2 separate regions of the Homo sapiens genome follow, and region 1 is linked to region 2. Evidence: fine-mapped expression QTL. A gene starts in region 2. The other region holds a variant in brackets. All regions are shown on one strand. Distances are from middle to middle. Region 1 has its middle 87 kb from the start of FMR1-AS1. Region 2 holds the start of FMR1 (fragile X messenger ribonucleoprotein 1).

Region 1 (10,317 bases), 86 kb before region 2:
CTAGCTGCAGGAGTTTTTTTTTTTCATACCAGTGATGCCTGGAACACCAGCCAGACAGAACCTTTCACTTCCCTGGAAAGGGGGCTGAAGCCACGGAGCCAAGTGGTCTAGCTCAGTGGATCCCACCCCCATGGAGCCCAGCAAGCTAAGATTCACTGGCTTGAAATACTCACTGCCAACAAAGCAGTCTGAAGTCTACCTGAGATGCTCGAGCTTGGTGGGGGGGAAGGGTTTCCACCATTACTGAGGCTTAAGTAGGCAGTTTTCCCCTCACAGTGTAAACAAAGCCCCCTGGAAGTTCAAACTGGGGGAGCCCACCACAGCTCAGCAAACCCTCTGTAGCCACACTGCCTCTCTAGATTCCTCCTCTCTGGGCAGGGCATCTCTGAAAGAAAGCAGCAGCCCCAGTCAGAGGCTTGTAGATAAAATTCCCATCTCCCTGGGACAGAGCACCTGGGGGAAGGGGCAGCTATAGGCGCAGCTTCAGAAGACTTAAGCGCTCCTGCCTGCCGGCTCTGAAGAGAGCAGCAGATCACCCAACACAGTGCTCGAGGTCTGCTAAGGGACAGACTGCCTCCTCAAGTGGGTACCTGACCCCCGTGCCTCCTGACTGGGAGACACTTCCCAGCAGGGGTCAACAGACACCTCATACAGGAGAGCTCTGGCTGGCATCTGGCGGGTGCCCCTTCTGGGACGAAGCTTCCAGAGGAAGGAACAGGCAGCAATCTTTGCTGTTCTGCAGCCTCCGCAGGTGACACCCAGGAAAACAGGGCCTGGAGTAGACCTCCAGCAAACTCCAGCAGACCTGCAGCAGAGAGGCCTGACTGTTAGATGGAAAACCAGCAAACAGAAAGGAATAGCATCAGCATCAACAAAAGGGATGTCCACACAAAAACCCCACCCGAAGGTCACCAACAACAAAGATGAAAGGTAGATAAATCCATGAAAATGAGGAAAAAGCAGTGCAAAAAGGCTGAAAATTCCAAAAACCAGAATGCCTCTTCTCCTCCAAACGGTCCTCCAAAGGATCACAACTCCTCGCCAGTGAGGGAACAAAACTAAATGAAGAATGAGTTTGACGAATTGACAGAAGTAGGCTTCAGAAGGTGGGTAATAACAAACTCCTCTGAGCTAAAGGAGCATGTTCTAACCCAATGCAAGGAAGCTAAGAACATTGAAAAAAGGTTAGAGGAATTGCTAACTAGAACAATCAGTTTAGAGAAGAACATAATGACCTGATGGACCTGATGGATCAGAAGAACTTCGTGATGCATACACAAGTATCAATAACCAACTCAATCGAGTGGAAGAAAGGATATCAGAGATTGAAGATCAACATAATGAAATAAAGCATGAAGACAAGATGAGAGAAAAAAGAATGAAAAGGAAAGAACAAAGCCTCCAAGAAATATGGCACTTTGTGAAAAGACCAAATCTACACTTGATTGGTGTACGTGAAAGTGACAGGGAGAATGGAAGCAGGTTGGAAAACACTCTTCAGGATATTATCCAGAAGAACTTCCCTAACCTAGCAAGACAGGCCAACATTCAAATTCAGGAAATACAGAGAACACCACAGAGATACTCTTCGAGAAGAGCAAACAACTCCAAGACACATAATTGTCAGATTCACCAAGGTTGAAATGAAGGACAAAATGTTAAGGGCAGCCAGAGAGAAGGGTCGGGTTTCTGACAAAGAGAAGCCCATGAGACTAACAGCAGATCCCTCTGCAGAAACCCTACAAGCCATAAGAGAGTGGGAGGGTAATATTCAAAATTCTTAAAGAAAAGAATTTTCACCTAGAATTTCATATCCAGCCAAATTAAGCGTCATAAGCAAAGGAGAAATAGAATCCTTTACAGACAAGCAAATGCTGAGAGATTTTGTCACCACCAGGCCTGCTGTACAAGAGGTCCTGAAGGAAGCACTAAATATGGAAAGGAAAAACCCGTACCAGCCACTGCAAAAACATACCAAATTGTAAAGACCATTAACACTATGAAAAAACTGCATCAACTAACATGCAAAATAACCAGCTAGCATCATAATGACAGGATCAGTTTCACACATAACCATACTAACTAACCTAAAATGTAAACAGGCTAAATGCCCCAATTAAAAGACACAGAGTGGCAAATTGTATAAAGTGTCAAGACCCATTGGTGTGCTGTATTCAAGAGACCCATCTCACATGCAAAGACACACATAGGCTCAAAATAAAGGAATGGAGGAAGACTTACCAAGCAAATGGAAAGGAAAAAAAAAAAACAGGTTGCAATCCTAGTCTCAGATGAAACACACGTTAAACCAAAACAAAGATAAAAAAAGACAAAGAAGGGCATTACATAATGGTAAAGGGATTGATGCAACAAGAAGAGCTAACTATCCTAAATATATATGCACCTAATACAGGAGCACACAGATTCATAAAGCAAGTTCTTAGAGACCTACAAAGAGAGTTAGAGTCCCACACAACAATGGTGGGAGACTTTAACACCCCAGTGTCAGTGTTAGACAGATCAATGAGACAGAAAATTAACAAGGATATTCAGGACTTGAACTCAGCTCTGGACCAAGAGGACCTAATAGACAACTACAGAACTCACCGCCCCAAATCAATAGAATATACATTCTTCTCAGCACCACATAGCACTTATTCTAAAGTTGACCACGTAATTGGAAGTAATACAGTCTTCAGCAAATGCAAAAGAACAGAAATCATAACAAACAGTCTCTCGCACCACAGTGCAATCAAATTAGAAGTCAGGATTAAGAAACTCACTCAAAACCGCACAACTACATGGAAACTGAACAACATGCTCCTGAATGACTACTGGGTAAATAACAAAATGAAGGCAGAAATAAGTAAGTTCTTTGAAACCAATGAGAACAAAGACACAACATACCAGAATCTCTGGGACACAGCTAAAGCAGTGTTTAGAGGGAAATGTATAGCACTAAATGCCCACAGGAGAAAGTGGGAAAGATCTAAAATCCACACTCTAACATCACAATTAAAAGAACTAGAGAAGCAAGAGCAAACACATTCAAAAGCTAGTAGAAGACAAGAAATCACTAAGATCAGAGAAGAACTGAAAGAGATAGAGACACAAAAAAACCCTTCAAAAAATCAGTGAATCCAGGAGCAGGTTTTTTTGAAAAGATTAGCAAAATACATAGACCACTAGCCAGACTAATAAAGAAGAAAAGAGAGAAGAATAAAATAGACACAATAAAAAATGATAAAGGGGATATCACCACCGATCCCACAGAAATACAAACTACTGTCAGAGAATACTATAAACACCTCTACGCAAATAAACTAGAAAATCTAGAAGAAATGGATAAATTCCTGGACACATACACCCTCCCAAGACTAAATCAGGAAGAAGTCGAATCCCTGAATAGACCAATAACAAGTTCTGAAATTGAGGCAGTAATTAATAGCCTACCAACCGAAAAAATTCCAGGACAAGACGGATTCACAACCGAATTCTACCAGAGGTACAAAGAGGAGCTGGTACCATTCCTTCTGAAACTATTCCAATCAATAGAAAAAGAGGGACTCCTCCCTAACTCATTGTATGAGGCCAGCATCATCCTGATACCAAAACCTGACAGACACACAACAAAAAATAAAATTTCAGCCAATATCCCTGATGAACATCGATGTGGAAAGCTTCAGTAAAATACTGGCAAACTGAATCAGCAGCAAATCAAAACACTTATCCACCACGATCAAGTTGGCTTCATCCCTGGGATGCAGGACTGGTTCAACATATGCAAATCAATAAATGTAATCCATCACATAAACAGAACCAATGATAAAAATCACATGATTATCTCAATAGATGCAGAAAAGGACTTTGATAAAATTCAACACTGCTTCATGCTAAAAACTCTCAATAAACTAGGTATTGATGGAACGTATCTCAAAATAATAAGAGCTGTTTATAACAAACCCACAGCCAATATCATACTCAATGGGCAAAAGTTTGAAGCACTCTTTTTGAAAACTGGCACAAGACAAGGATGCCCTCTCTCATTACTCCTATTCAACATAGTATTGGAAGTTCTGGCTGGGGAAATCAGACAAGAGAAAGAAATAAAAGATATTCAAATAAGAATTGAGGAAGTCAAATTGTCTCTGTTTGCAGATGACATGATTGTATATTTAGAAAACCCCATCGTCTCAGCCCAAAATCTCCTTAAGCTGATAAGCAACTTCACCAAAGTCTCAAGATACAAAATCAATGTGCAAAAATCACAAGCATTCCTCTACACCAATAATACACAAACAGACAGCCAAATCATGAGTGACCTCCCATTCACAATTGCTACAAAGAGAATAAAATACCTAGGAATCCAGCTTACAAGGGAGATGAAGGACCTCTTCAAGGAGAACCACAAACCACTGCTCAAGGAAATAAGAGAGAACACAAACAAATGAAAAAACATTCCATGCTCATGGATAGGAAGAATCAATATGGTGAAAATGGCCATACTGCCCAAAGTAATTTATAGATTCAATGCTATCCTCATCAAGCTACCATTGACTTTCTTCACAGAATTAGAAAAACTACTTTAAATTTCATACGGAACCAAGAAAGAGCACGTGTAGCCAAGACAATCCTAAGCAAAAAGAACAAAGCTGGAGACATCATGCTACCTGACTTCAAACTATACTACAAGGCTACAGTAAGCAAAACAGCATGGTACTGTTACCAAAACAGAGATACAGACCAACAGAACAGAACACAGGCCTCAGAAATAATGCCACACATCTGCAACCATCCGATCTCTGACAAACCTGACAAAAACAAGCAATGGGGGAAGGATTCTCTATTTAATAAATGGTGCTGGGAAAACTGGCTAGCCACATGCAGAAAACTGAAACTGGACCCCTTCCTTACACCTTA[T/C]ACAAAAATTAACTCAAGATGAATTAAAGACTTAAATGTAAGACCTAAAATCATAAAAACCCTAGAAGAAAACCTAGGCAGTGCCATTCAGGACATAGGCATGGGCAAAGACTTCATGACTATAACACCAAAAGCAATGGCAACAAAAGCTAAAATTGACAAATGGGATCTAATTAAACTAAAGAGCTTCTGCACAGCAAAAGAAACTTATCATCTGAGTGAACAGGCAATCTACAGAATGGGAGAAAATTTTTGCAATCTATCTATCTGACAATGGGGTAATATCCAGAATCTACAAGGAACTTAAACAAATTTACAAGAAAAAAAAACAAACAACCCCATCAAAAAGTGGGTGAAGGATATGAACAGACACTTCTCAAAAAAAGACATTTATGCAGCTGACAAACATATTTTAAAAAGCTCATCATCACTGGTCATTAGAGAAATGCAAATAAAAACACAATGAGATACCATCTCACGCCAGTTAGAAAGACGATCATTAAAAAATCAGGAAACAACAGATGCTGGAGAGGATGTGGAGAAATGGGAATGCTTTTACACTGTTGGTGGGAGTGCAAATTAGTTCAACTATTTTAGAAGAGAGTGTGACAATTCCTCAAGGATCTAGAACCAGAAATATCATTTGACTGAGCAATCCCATTACTGGGTATGTACCCAAAGGAATATAAATCATTCTACTATAAAGACACATGCACACATATGTTTACTGCAGCACTACTCACAATATCAAAGACTTGGAACCAACTCAAATGCCCATCAACGATAGACTGGATAAAGAAAATGTGGCACATATACACCATGGAATACTATGCAGCCACAAAAAAAGGATGAGTTCATGTCCTTTGCTGGGACATGGATGAAGCTGGAAACCATCATTCTCAGCAAACTAACACAGGAACAGAAAACCAAATATCACATGTTCTCACTCATAAGTGGGAGTTGAAAAATGAGAACACATGGACACAGGGAGGGGAACATCACACACCGGGGCCTGTCGGGGGGTGGGGGGCTAGGGGAGGGATAGCATTAGGAGAAATACCTAATGTAGATGACGGGTTGATGGGTGCAGCAAACCACCATGGCACGTGCATACAAATTTAACAAACCTGCACGTTCTGCATATGTATCCCAGAACTTAAAGTATAATTTTAAAAAAAACTGAGAAGTAAGGGGAAGGATCCTACAGGCAAGGCAAATGGACAAATAACCTGCTTCTGTTTTCTCCCCCTTCTCATCCATCCTGTACATTGTTGCTGTGATAATTTTCCCAACACAACAATTTCATTCAGACTTTCAAGGGCATTCAGCTCACTCTTCAGCCTCACTTGCAAGACAATGGTACATACTGGCTAAGAGTGTAGGACTTAAAAAACTTGGTGGTTGAAGATATATGCTTCCACTACCTCATGAAACATCAGGAAAATTATAAAGTAATAGATGGAAACATACATACACACACACACACACATACAGAGAGAGAGGGAGAGTCAGGATAGGAGGAGACAGTAGAATCAAAATTTTAGAAGTTGGAAAGCAAAAGGACAGGTGATAACTGACTTAGCAAACACAAGAAACCTGATGGAGCCATAAAAAGGAAGGAGATCATGTCCTTTGTAGGGACATGGTCTCAATCCAGATCTGCAGAGAGGGTTCTTGAATCTCACAGAAGAAAGAATTCAAGGTGAGTTGCAGAGTGCAGTGATAAGATATTGAAAGCTACACTGTTACAGAGTAGGGCATCCTCAGAAATTAAGAGAGGAATGCACTGTCTTCAAGCTTTTCTTATATAAGTGTCCTGTCTATGCAAAGACTAAACTAAGCTGTGACTATGTGCAGGAGAGCAGACAGCATGAGAAAATTTATTATTCTGTTGATTTAAAGAAAACTATCCTTGATATTTTAGTGGGTAAGTACATCAAAGAATAACTATAATTATTTTAAACCATGTATTGTCACGGGTATTGGGACATCTAGACTTTCTGCTATTGTAGGTGTGTGTCCTTGTAGGTTTTCCTCAACTATAAACACTTTATAACCATGAATCATGGCTGGAACCGAAAGTGCCTTTTTAGTCTCAAGATGGAGCTGAACTTAAAACGGTGTCACTCTGGTTCTGCTAGGCTCCTGTTTCCCTAACAGATATTTTACTGAGGATGTCTAAGTAGCATATTAATCAATTCCATATCATATCATGGCAGACGCTGTTGGTTGCCTTTCCAAGAATTATTTTCTCTATGTATTTTTTTCTTCACTGATAGGAGCATGGTCTTGTCTAGGGAGGAATGCACCCAATCCAAACAAATCATGACATGCCATTCCCATTGACCATTGACTGGTATAGAGATGGGTATATGTGAAACTGTTTTTGGCCATCTAGATGTAAGAGAAAGTTTATTTGGGGCCATACAGTTCTACCTTACAGAGAACTATATAAAACAGGGTTTGTTTGCCCTCTTCCTTCCCATTATACTTTGTATCTTGTTGTGTGAACATCTGGAGCTTCAGTAGACATCTTGTAACCAAGAGGCAATATGCCCAGGAATGGAAGAATAGAATTATGAAAAGAGCTTGGCTTGTGGACTATGACTTTGAACACTCAAACTATGACTATCTTCTACCAGATTTCTTGTTCACTAAACAACTAATATATTCCTGGTTTAAACCACTGCTGGTTTGAGTTCTGTTACTTGCACTCAAAAACAGTACACACTGAACAATTCCATTTTTATGTTTAACAGAAAACCCCACATCTATGGATATACATATGTTCCTTGTGGATCTTTTTGCTAATGTAAAAAGGTGAAAGAAAAATGGACAACTACCAGTTGAAGAATGACTGAAGACTATTACGCAACCATTAAGAAAATATTTTGGCGGTCACTTCAGCAGCATATATACTAAAATGGAATGGTAGAGAGAACATTAGCATGTCCCTTGCACAAAGATGACATGCAAATTCAGGAAGCATTCCTTATTTTTCTTCATAAGCGAATAAGAAAGTAAGATCCTTTTCAGACAAGCAAATGCTTAGTGAATTTTTCAACACCAGGCCTGCCTTGCAAGAGCTCCTGAAGGAAGCACTGAATATGGAAAGGAAAAACCACTACCAGCCATTATAAAAACACACTGAATTACACAGACCAGTGACACCATGAAGCAACCACATAAACAAGCCTGCAAAATAACCAGCTAGCATCATGATGACAGGATCAAATTCACACACAAAAATACTAACCTTAAATGTAAATGGACTAAATGTCCCAATTAAAAGGCACAGACGGCAAGCTTGATAGAGTCATTGTGTCTGGAATTGGTGGGTTCTTGGTCTCGCTGACTTAAAGAATGAAGCCGTGGACCCTCGTGGTGAGTGTTACAGTTCTTAAAGATGGTGTGTCTGGAGTTTGTTCCTTCTGATGTTCAGATGTGTCCGGAATTTCTCCCTTTTGGTGGGTTCGTTGTCTCACTGACTTCAGGAGTGAAGCCACAGACCTTCGCAGTGAGTGTTACAGCTCTTAAAGGCAGCGCGTCCAGAGTTGTTCATTTCTCCCGGTGGGTTTGTGGTCTCGCTGGCTTCAGGAGTAAAGCTGCAGACCTTCAGAGGTGAGTGTTACAGCACATAAAGGTAGCGTGGACCCAAAGAGTGAACAGCAGCAAGATTTATTGTGAAGAGCAAAAGAACAAAGCTTCCACAGCATGGAATGGGACCACAGCGGGTTGCCGCTGCTGGCTCGGGTGGCCTACTTTTATTCCCTTATCCGGCCCCACTCACATCCTGCTGATTGGTCCACTTTACAGAGAGCTGATTGGTCCACTTTACAGAGAGCTGATTGGTCCATTTTACAGAGAGCTGATTGGTCCGTTTTACAGAGAGCTGATTGGTCCATTTTGACAGAGTGCTGATTGGTGCATTTACAAACCTTTAGCTAGACACAGAGTGCTGATTGGTGCGTTTACAATCTTTAGCTAAACAGAAAAGTTCTCCAAGTCCCCAGCCAATTAGCTAGACACAGAGCACTGATTGGTGTGTTTACAAACCTTTAGCTAGACATAGAGTGCTGATTGGTGCGTTTACAATCCTTTAGCTAGACAGAAAAGTTCTCCAAGTCCCCACCCATCCCAGAAGCTCAGCCAGCCTCACCTCTCACTGGCATTCACCACGGGACTTTGAGGCACCTAGCCTGAGGGAGCTCATCCAGACAGCAGCCCAGCAGCCGAGAGGGCTCCAGAGGGCTCCAGCAGCCCAGAGGGAGCTCATCCCAGACAATCAAGAGGAAAAGAGGGGAAGTGAGAAAGAGACGGAGACCTGCTATCGTGGCCAACGGTCCCACGAGGAGGGAACAGTGGTCCACACACAGGATTCAGCCTCTGATCAAGCCCAGCAGGCCCATGCTCACCTGGAACCTGCGCTGGCCTGTGAGCGCTGCGTGCAGCCCCGGCTCCCACCCACACCTCTCTCTTCACACTTCCCCGTGAGCAGAGAGAGCCAGCTCCGGCCTCGGCCAGCCCCAGAGAGGGGCCCTCGTAGGGCAGCGGTGGGCTGAAGGGCTCCTCAAGCACGGCCAGAGCAGACGCCAAGGTCGAGGAGGCACTGAGAGCGAGCGAGGGCTGCTAGCATGTTGTCACCTCTCATCATGACCCATTGGTATGCTGTCTTCAAGAGACCCATCTCACATGCAAAGACACACATAGGCTCAAAATAAAGGGATGGAGGAAATTTTATCAAGCAGATGGAAAACAGAGAAAAGCAGGGGTTGCAATCCTAATTTCTGACAAAACAGATTTTAAACCAACAAAGTTCAAAAAAGACAAAGAAGGGCATTACATAATGGTAAAAGGTTCAATTCAACAAGAAGAGCTAATTATCTTATATATGCACCCAATATGGGAGCACCCAGGTTAATAAAGCAAGTTCTTAGAGACCTACAAAGAGCCTTAGACTCCCACACAATAATATTGGGAGACTTTAACACCTCAATGTCAATATTAGATCATTGAGACACAAAATTAACAAAGATATTTAAAACCTGAGCTCAGCTCTGAATCAAATGGAGCTGATAGGTGTCTACAGAACTCTCCACCCAAATTCAACAGAATATACATCTTCTCATTGCCACATGGCACTTACTCTAAAATTGATCACATAATCAGAAGTAAAACACTCCTCATCAAATGCAAAATAACTGAAATCCTAACAGTCTCTCAGACCACAGTGCAATCAAATTAGAACTCAAGATTAAGAAATTGACTCAAAATAACACAATTACATGGAAATTGAAAAACCTTCTCCTGAATGACACTTGGGTAAATAATAAAATTAAGCAGAAATCAAGAAATTCTTTGAGACTAATGAGAAAAAAGAGACAATGTACCAGAATC
Region 2 (10,317 bases):
CTCAGTATCATGGGGGGAACTGGTTGCAGGATGTCTGAGGATACCAAAACCTGTGGATTCTCAAGTTTCTTATATAATACGACGTAGTGTTTGCATATAACCTATGCACATCCTCCTCCTGTATACTTTAAATCATCTCTAGATTATATATAATACCTAACACAATGTAAATGCTATGTAACAGTTATACTTTATTGATTTTTTATTTGTATTATTTTTATTGTTATATTGTTATTTTTAGGGGATTTTCTTTTTGAGACTGAGTCTTGCACTGTCGTCAGGGCTGGAGTGCAGTGGTGCGGTCTTGGCTCAGTGCAACCTCTGCCTCCTGGGTTCAAGTGATTCTCCTGCCTCACCTTCCTGAGCAGCTTGGATTACAGGTGCCCGCCACCATGCTCAGCTAATTTTTTGTATTTTTAGTAGAGACGGGGCTTCACTATGTTGGCCAGGCCGGTCTCGAACTCCTGACCTGATAATCCCCCCACCTTGGCCTCCCAAAGTACCAAAATTACAGGCATGAGCCACCCCTCCTGGCCATTTTTAGGGGATTTTTAAAGAATATTTTTGATCTGTCATTGGTTGAATCTGTTGATGCAGAACCCATGGATACAGAGGGCCAACTGTAGATAAATGGAACAAAATAAAGATGCCAGAATTAGATCCATACAAATACAGTCAACTGATCATTGACAAAGGAGCAAATAATTCAATGGAGAAACAATGGTCTTTTCAACAAACGGTGCTGGAATAACTGGACATTCATATGCAAAAAACAATCTAGACACAGACCTTATATCTTTCACAAAAATTTACTCAAAATGGATCATAGACCTAAATGCAAAACACAAAACTGTAAAACTTCTGGAAGATAACATAGGAGAAAATCTAGGTGAACTTGTGTTTGGTGATGACTTTTTGGGTACAATGCTAAAAGCACGATCCCTGAAAAAAACTGAACAGTCGAAATTTTTTCATTACAAATGTCTGCTCAATGAAAGACATTGTTAAATGAATGAAAAGACAAGCCACTGTCTGGGAGAAAATATCTGCAAAATACATAATCTGATAAAGGGCTGATATCTAAAATATATAAAGAACACTGAAAAATCATCAATAAAAAAAACCCAATGGGTAACAGATCTGAGCAGACACCTTATCAAAGAAGATACATACGTGACAAACAAGCATAAGATGCCCAATGCCATATGTCATTAGGAAATTGCAAACTAAAACAATAAGATTCTACTATGCACCTATTAAAATACCCAAAATTCAAAATACTGGCAACACCAAATGTTGGCAAGGATGTGGAGTAACAGGAAGTCTCACTCATTGCTGGTGAAAATGCAAACTGTTACAGCCACTTTGGAAGATCATCTGGTAATTTTTGATAAAGCAAAACATAGTCTTACCATATGATCCAGCAATCATGCTCCTTGGTATTTACCTAAATGAGTTGAAAACTTATGTCCATACAAAAATCTGTACAAGAAAGTTTACAGGAGCCTTATTCATAATTTTAAAAGACTGAAAGCAACCAAGATGTCTTTCAATAAATAAATGGATAAACAAACCATGGTATATACATACAGTGGAATACTGTGCACAATAAAAGAAAATAAACTATCAAGCCATGAAAAGACACAGAGGAATGTTAAATGTATATTGCTAAGTAAAAAAAAAAAAGCAGTATGAAAAGACTACATACTATATGATTCCAACTCTATGACATTACGGAAAAGGCAAAATTCTGCAGAAAGTAAAAACATCAGTGATTGCCAAGGGTTGGTTGCAGGTAGACCAGATGAATAGGTGGAACACAAGGAATTTTTTAATGCAGTGTAATTGTTCTGCTGACACTGTAATGGTGGATATGTTATGCTTTTTTCAAAACCCACAGAGCTATGCAACACAAAGAGTGAATCTTAATGTAAACTATAGACTTTAGTTAGTAATAATGCATCAGTTGTAATAAATGTACAATGCGAATGCAAGATGTTAATAACAGGAGGAACTGTAGGGGAGGAGGGAGATTAGGAAGTACATAGAAACTCTCTCCACTATCTGCTTAATTTTTCCATAAATGTAAAACTGTTCTAAAAAATAAAGCCAATTAATTATTCTTTTTCTAATATCTCATTTGAATGAGAGGTCATGGTTAAAGGAAATTGTCAGAGAAAGTGTCAAGAAAGAAGTGTGACTTTAGCTGGGTCCTGAAGGGTACATAAGATTTGAGAGTCGGAAAGGGCAGAAGGCATTTCAGCTGGGTTTGAGCCATGGAAAAGACTCAGAGGGCTCAAATTGCGAAGGAGCAGGAAATAGCACAGAATAAATCAATGCAAAGACAACAGGCAGCAATTTAATGGAAACCAAGGGCCAAGGCAGGGCTAGAAACACTGAAGCATCATTCCAATATCAGATAAATATAGGCATGAGAGCTGACTCAACCTCGGCCGGGTCCTCAACACATATTCGTTCATTCATGTAATATTTAGTAAACATTCACTATGTTCCAGACACTGTGGTAGGCACTGGGGACAAGCAGTGAATAAAACAAATGGAAATCTTTGTTCTCACTGAGCTTACACTCTAGTGAGGGGAGAGAGACAGAACCTGTCTGCTATTTTCAAGAAACAACAAAGAAAACATTATGGCTGGAATGAGAAACAATGGCCTTTTCAATAAACAGTGCTGGAATAACTGGACATTCATATGCAAAAAATAATCTAGATACAGACCTTATATCTTTTGAAAAAAATTTACTCAAAATGGATCATAGACCTAAATGCAAAACACAAAACTGTAAAACTTCTGAAAGATAACATAGGAGAAAATCTAGGTGAACTAGATAGATTTCATGCACTGGAATGAAGTGAAGGGGGAAAGTAGAAGGTGAGATAGCGGAGATAACAGAAGTCAGAGTATATAGGGCACTGAAGCCAGAATAAATAATGACTCTGGCTTTTACTCTGAGAGATGTAGGGAGTCACTGGGGGATTGTGAGTGGCAGAGTGACTTGATTGACACCTCAACAGGGTCATTCTGTCTTCTGTGCTGAGAACTGTCAGAGAGGGTACAACAGTGGACAGTGACTGCAGGGATACCAGCGAAGAAGTTGCTGCCATAATGCAGGTAAGAGAATGGAAGCTTGGACTATGGTTTTAGCTGAGCAAATGATCAGAAACAGAGTCTGGATTCTACAATGATTTGCTGATGGATCTGATGTGTGAAAGAGGGTCAAAATGTCTCAGTTTTAGGCTTGAGCAACGAACTGGAAGGCAGGAGCTGCCTGTAACGAGAGACAGGAGAGAAAGAGAGAGAGAGAGAGAGGACTTTGGAAGAGCAGGCTCATGATCAGGCCTGAGCTCAGTGTCTGAATTCAGGTAAGCTATCTTGAAAGGGGAAATATCAAAAGCTAGAGATCAGAGTAAGGCTGAGACTCAGAGTCAAGTGGGGAAGACTAAGTTGCAGTATGTACTGGCAGTGAAGATAAGTATTTATTCATTCATTGAACATACCTTGAAATCAACCACTTTTAATGTGCCAGGGACACAAAGATAGAAAAGACATTTGCCCTGTCTGGAAGGTACTAATAATCCAATAAGGAAAACAGAAATATAAATAAATTATTCTAGTACACTAACCATCATAGTAGAGGTATTCAACATTTGTTGAGTCTCTGCTATATGCCAAGCAGTGTAATGAGGAAGCAGAGGGTATGCACAAAGTTCTACAAGAGCACAAAATAAGTTCTGGCAAAGGTTTGTAAAGACATTCACAAGGGTTTTCACCACAGTATGACTTCAGGGAGTTGGCAGTAACCTAGATGCCCGATCAGTAGGGATATGTATGAATAAAATTTCTGGCATACTCGGTAGCAAACTAGGTGTACACACAGCAATGTGGGTATAGCTCAAAAACAGACTGTTGAGTAAAACAGTGGGAAATAGAGATTTACAGTCCAATACCATCTCTGTAAATGCAAGAGGCATAAACAAAACATTATCTGTGTTAAATTATCAAGGATCTCTATCGAACATATTGCAGCTTGTGTCTAGAAGAATGAGAGTGGGGATCGAGAAAGATGAGGAAAAAATAATATAAACACTATAAAATAATGTAAACAAGGACCCTGTAGGGACTGATATGACAATGTGCTGAAAATTGAGGAGCAAAGTTAACTCTCTGTACCTGAGATAAAATAACTAGCTAATAGGAATCCAGCTGAAAACCTTAAGGTGCAGGGCCTCTATGGGGCCCAGGAAGGATGTGTAGAGACATGAACGGATGAAAGTGCATCACAGGTTCAGGGAACAACACAGGTTGAGTGTGGCTTGTAGTAAAAATGGTTGTGAAGAGTTGACATATTTTTAAGCCCTGGGTAAATTGAACAACAGCTTACACTTGGAGGGGTATAATCATTCTAATCAATGTGTCCCCTTTTACTATAATACATTGGAGTTGCAGCTAATGCTCTGCTCCCATTCAGCCTATGATGAGATTCTCTTTCAGCCCTATTGGGTTCTTGGCCTCATGTGACTACTCCAAAGACCCTAGTCCAAAAGGTCTTTCCTGTTTGCTATGGCCTTGAGGAATGTGGCCCTAGATCCACCGCTTTAAAGCTGGAGTTCCACCAGCAGCAACATCCTCTCATTCTGGGGCACCTGCCTGGGGCAGGTCATCCTGCCTCTGCCAACTCAGTGCTATTAGTTAACTCTCACCTGCCATATTCCAGCTGGAATCATCTCCCCTTCTCCACCCCAGACTAGGTCATGTTCCGCCATCATGGAAGCGCCTATTCTTCATACCCCTTATCACAGCTGCAACTACTCATTTACTTGTCTGACAATTTGATTTATGTCCACCTACTTTGCTAGGTACTAAGTTCAATGCTGGCAGTCGTTTCTTCTTTTTTTTTCTTTTCTGTTTTGCTCACCGATTTCTCGTTAGCACTTAGCACAGTGTCTGGCACACGATAGATGCTCCGTCAACTTCTCAGTTGGATACCAGCATCCCGAAGGGAACATGGATTAAGGCAGCTATAAGCACGGTGTAAAAACAGGAATAAGAAAAAGTTGAGGTTTGTTTCACAGTGGAATGTAAAGGGTTGCAAGGAGGTGCATCGGCCCCTGTGGACAGGACGCATGACTGCTACACACGTGTTCACCCCACCCTCTGGCACAGGGTGCACATACAGTAGGGGCAGAAATGAACCTCAAGTGCTTAACACAATTTTTAAAAAATATATAGTCAAGTGAAAGTATGAAAATGAGTTGAGGAAAGGCGAGTACGTGGGTCAAAGCTGGGTCTGAGGAAAGGCTCACATTTTGAGATCCCGACTCAATCCATGTCCCTTAAAGGGCACAGGGTGTCTCCACAGGGCCGCCCAAAATCTGGTGAGAGAGGGCGTAGACGCCTCACCTTCTGCCTCTACGGGTCACAAAAGCCTGGGTCACCCTGGTTGCCACTGTTCCTAGTTCAAAGTCTTCTTCTGTCTAATCCTTCACCCCTATTCTCGCCTTCCACTCCACCTCCCGCTCAGTCAGACTGCGCTACTTTGAACCGGACCAAACCAAACCAAACCAAACCAAACCAAACCAGACCAGACACCCCCTCCCGCGGAATCCCAGAGAGGCCGAACTGGGATAACCGGATGCATTTGATTTCCCACGCCACTGAGTGCACCTCTGCAGAAATGGGCGTTCTGGCCCTCGCGAGGCAGTGCGACCTGTCACCGCCCTTCAGCCTTCCCGCCCTCCACCAAGCCCGCGCACGCCCGGCCCGCGCGTCTGTCTTTCGACCCGGCACCCCGGCCGGTTCCCAGCAGCGCGCATGCGCGCGCTCCCAGGCCACTTGAAGAGAGAGGGCGGGGCCGAGGGGCTGAGCCCGCGGGGGGAGGGAACAGCGTTGATCACGTGACGTGGTTTCAGTGTTTACACCCGCAGCGGGCCGGGGGTTCGGCCTCAGTCAGGCGCTCAGCTCCGTTTCGGTTTCACTTCCGGTGGAGGGCCGCCTCTGAGCGGGCGGCGGGCCGACGGCGAGCGCGGGCGGCGGCGGTGACGGAGGCGCCGCTGCCAGGGGGCGTGCGGCAGCGCGGCGGCGGCGGCGGCGGCGGCGGCGGCGGAGGCGGCGGCGGCGGCGGCGGCGGCGGCGGCTGGGCCTCGAGCGCCCGCAGCCCACCTCTCGGGGGCGGGCTCCCGGCGCTAGCAGGGCTGAAGAGAAGATGGAGGAGCTGGTGGTGGAAGTGCGGGGCTCCAATGGCGCTTTCTACAAGGTACTTGGCTCTAGGGCAGGCCCCATCTTCGCCCTTCCTTCCCTCCCTTTTCTTCTTGGTGTCGGCGGGAGGCAGGCCCGGGGCCCTCTTCCCGAGCACCGCGCCTGGGTGCCAGGGCACGCTCGGCGGGATGTTGTTGGGAGGGAAGGACTGGACTTGGGGCCTGTTGGAAGCCCCTCTCCGACTCCGAGAGGCCCTAGCGCCTATCGAAATGAGAGACCAGCGAGGAGAGGGTTCTCTTTCGGCGCCGAGCCCCGCCGGGGTGAGCTGGGGATGGGCGAGGGCCGGCGGCAGGTACTAGAGCCGGGCGGGAAGGGCCGAAATCGGCGCTAAGTGACGGCGATGGCTTATTCCCCCTTTCCTAAACATCATCTCCCAGCGGGATCCGGGCCTGTCGTGTGGGTAGTTGTGGAGGAGCGGGGGGCGCTTCAGCCGGGCCGCCTCCTGCAGCGCCAAGAGGGCTTCAGGTCTCCTTTGGCTTCTCTTTTCCGGTCTAGCATTGGGACTTCGGAGAGCTCCACTGTTCTGGGCGAGGGCTGTGAAGAAAGAGTAGTAAGAAGCGGTAGTCGGCACCAAATCACAATGGCAACTGATTTTTAGTGGCTTCTCTTTGTGGATTTCGGAGGAGATTTTAGATCCAAAAGTTTCAGGAAGACCCTAACATGGCCCAGCAGTGCATTGAAGAAGTTGATCATCGTGAATATTCGCGTCCCCCTTTTTGTTAAACGGGGTAAATTCAGGAATGCACATGCTTCAGCGTCTAAAACCATTAGCAGCGCTGCTACTTAAAAATTGTGTGTGTGTGTTTAAGTTTCCAAAGACCTAAATATATGCCATGAAACTTCAGGTAATTAACTGAGAGTATATTATTACTAGGGCATTTTTTTTTTAACTGAGCGAAAATATTTTTGTGCCCCTAAGAACTTGACCACATTTCCTTTGAATTTGTGGTGTTGCAGTGGACTGAATTGTTGAGGCTTTATATAGGCATTCATGGGTTTACTGTGCTTTTTAAAGTTACACCATTGCAGATCAACTAACACCTTTCAGTTTTAAAAGGAAGATTTACAAATTTGATGTAGCAGTAGTGCGTTTGTTGGTATGTAGGTGCTGTATAAATTCATCTATAAATTCTCATTTCCTTTTGAATGTCTATAACCTCTTTCAATAATATCCCACCTTACTACAGTATTTTGGCAATAGAAGGTGCGTGTGGAAGGAAGGCTGGAAAATAGCTATTAGCAGTGTCCAACACAATTCTTAAATGTATTGTAGAATGGCTTGAATGTTTCAGACAGGACACGTTTGGCTATAGGAAAATAAACAATTGACTTTATTCTGTGTTTACCAATTTTATGAAGACATTTGGAGATCAGTATATTTCATAAATGAGTAAAGTATGTAAACTGTTCCATACTTTGAGCACAAAGATAAAGCCTTTTGCTGTAAAAGGAGGCAAAAGGTAACCCCGCGTTTATGTTCTTAACAGTCTCATGAATATGAAATTGTTTCAGTTGACTCTGCAGTCAAAATTTTAATTTCATTGATTTTATTGATCCATAATTTCTTCTGGTGAGTTTGCGTAGAATCGTTCACGGTCCTAGATTAGTGGTTTTGGTCACTAGATTTCTGGCACTAATAACTATAATACATATACATATATATGTGTGAGTAACGGCTAATGGTTAGGCAAGATTTTGATTGACCTGTGATATAAACTTAGATTGGATGCCACTAAAGTTTGCTTATCACAGAGGGCAAGTAGCACATTATGGCCTTGAAGTACTTATTGTTCTCTTCCAGCAACTTATGATTTGCTCCAGTGATTTTGCTTGCACACTGACTGGAATATAAGAAATGCCTTCTATTTTTGCTATTAATTCCCTCCTTTTTTGTTTTGTTTTGTAACGAAGTTGTTTAACTTGAAGGTGAATGAAGAATAGGTTGGTTGCCCCTTAGTTCCCTGAGGAGAAATGTTAATACTTGAACAAGTGTGTGTCAGACAAATTGCTGTTATGTTTATTTAATTAAGTTTGATTTCTAAGAAAATCTCAAATGGTCTGCACTGATGGAAGAACAGTTTCTGTAACAAAAAAGCTTGAAATTTTTATATGACTTATAATACTGCTGTGAGTTTTAAAAGTAAAGCAAAAGTAAACTGAGTTGCTTGTCCAGTGGGATGGACAGGAAAGATGTGAAATAAAAACCAATGAAAAATGAACTGCTGTGGAGAAGTGTTACATTTATGGAAAAAGAAATAGGAACCTTGTTCATCAAATTGATAGAAAAGCTTTTAAAACTAAACAAATCAAACAACTTGAGTATAATGGAATTCAGACTTTGATTTGCCTAACATAACCACCATATTTGCAAGGACAGCTCTCTATCTTCTGGTGTTTATTCTTAAAAACTTAAAAGTTAGATTTAGCGATCACCAGAGCCACTACTTTTATGCTTAGGTATTTGTTTGACTTAGAAAAAATTGGTCACGTGTACCACTTTATAGTGCCCTGCAGGTGTTAAGATATGAAGGCACTTTGACTTACACCTCATAAAATCTTTACAAAGTATTTTCTAAATGAATAATGATGAAATAAAGTCTTTATTCTAGGTGCATCTGCCCCACATAATTTGTTTTCTTTGGACTAGAAGTTTTGATGTGTTGAGAATGGTAATGAATTAACTCCATTTTAAATGTAGAATGCGTATCACTCCAATATGAATGCCCTAATGAATCCTAAGATTTGTAGGTTTTGTGTACTAGTATGAAAATTACTAAAGATGGAAAAATCACATGTTGGAGACATAAGATACAAACCTTTTTGTTTTCTGAAAATACAACCTCTGATTTCTGATTCCTTGTTGTAATATGGTGTAATTATACTAGATTGTAATTTTGTTGTTAGATTATACTTTTTTAAGTTCAGTGTTTGAGGACAGACTTTCATTTGGTTAGTAGTATTATGGCAGCTAGCAGCTAAATATGATAAAGTGTACAATCAAAAGGATATTTTTAATGAAGATATTAGTGGTCTAACATGTCATTTCAGATACATAGCTGAAATGTAGTAAAATCAGTTTTACTACAAATAAACTTGCATAAGGTTTATAAATTTATAAGTTTATAAATCAACTTGGGTAAAGTGTAAATAAACTTGCACTCGTGGTTTCTCTGAAGTCTCCTGAGCTAACTTTGCATAAAGGTGTTATTCTGTACTTCGAGGAAGTGAATTATTGGGGTCAACCACATTTTTTTTCCTTCCTACAGTCTGATTGCCCTTTTTAGTTTTTAGGATCTTTGTGGCTGCATCATTTTTCCCCTTTTGAACTGTGCATTTTCTAACCCCATACTTAAATATTCTCATAACCTCCAAATTATTAATTAGATGCAACATTCAGTGGTATATTACTGGAGTTTCTGATTTCTGCCCACTATAGGAATGTGCTTCCTGAGAAGATTGGGATCGTGATTATAATAATAGTTAACAGGGGATGAGTACTTTCTAGGTGCCAGGCACTGTTCTCTCTGATACTTTATTTGATGTATTGTTGTTATTCCCATTCTTTAAATGATGCACAGAGAGGTTAGGTAAGTGACTTACTACCAAGTGTCAGGGCCATTAAGGGTCAGGATTCTGAATTCCTGAAATGATGAAATTTAGCTTGAAGAAATTGGTTTGATTTCCTGCTTAGTTTTCAATTTCATGGTGGTCTTTGATTGTATTTTGTGCTATAACACTGCCTTAGCATCCTATAACTATAGTTACAGTGTTATATTACCATTTTTTATTGTTAATACAAAGCCATCATGAAATAATTCAGTTTATGTGCCAGCTTTTTTTGTTACTAATTCTTGAACCTTGGCGCTGTACTTCTTCATGTGGATGCCTGTTAAGGAAAGATAAAGTTAGAAATCTTTGACCCTGCTAGGAAATTTGTCTTTGTTATATTGGGAGCTCATAAAACTGAAGTATTCAAAAGTTAGAATACATACACACAAGAAAAATTAGTAACTAATTTAATAATGTTTTCTTTGCACATGT

What was found. PIP is the estimated chance that this variant, and not a neighbour inherited with it, causes the effect.
Region 1: its variant is the best candidate, but not a certain one, in a credible set for the expression of FMR1 in whole blood (TOPMed, PIP 0.57).

The regions. Positions count from the first base shown.
Region 1 is chrX:147,819,465-147,829,781 of GRCh38, forward strand. It overlaps the pseudogene RNU6-382P. Among named protein-coding and RNA genes, the nearest start is that of FMR1-AS1, 87 kb to the right of the region's middle. The variant T/C (reference allele first, on the strand shown) is at 4,921.
Region 2 is chrX:147,905,957-147,916,273 of GRCh38, forward strand. FMR1 (fragile X messenger ribonucleoprotein 1) reads left to right here and starts at 5,963. Exons shown (of 17, transcript NM_002024.6): 1 at 5,963-6,274. The coding sequence starts at 6,224. FMR1-AS1 (FMR1 antisense RNA 1) reads right to left here and starts at 5,861. Exons shown (of 2, transcript NR_024503.3): 1 at 5,686-5,861; 2 at 3,475-5,039. RefSeq lists enhancers at 5,494-5,703, 6,284-6,383 and a silencer at 5,784-6,123.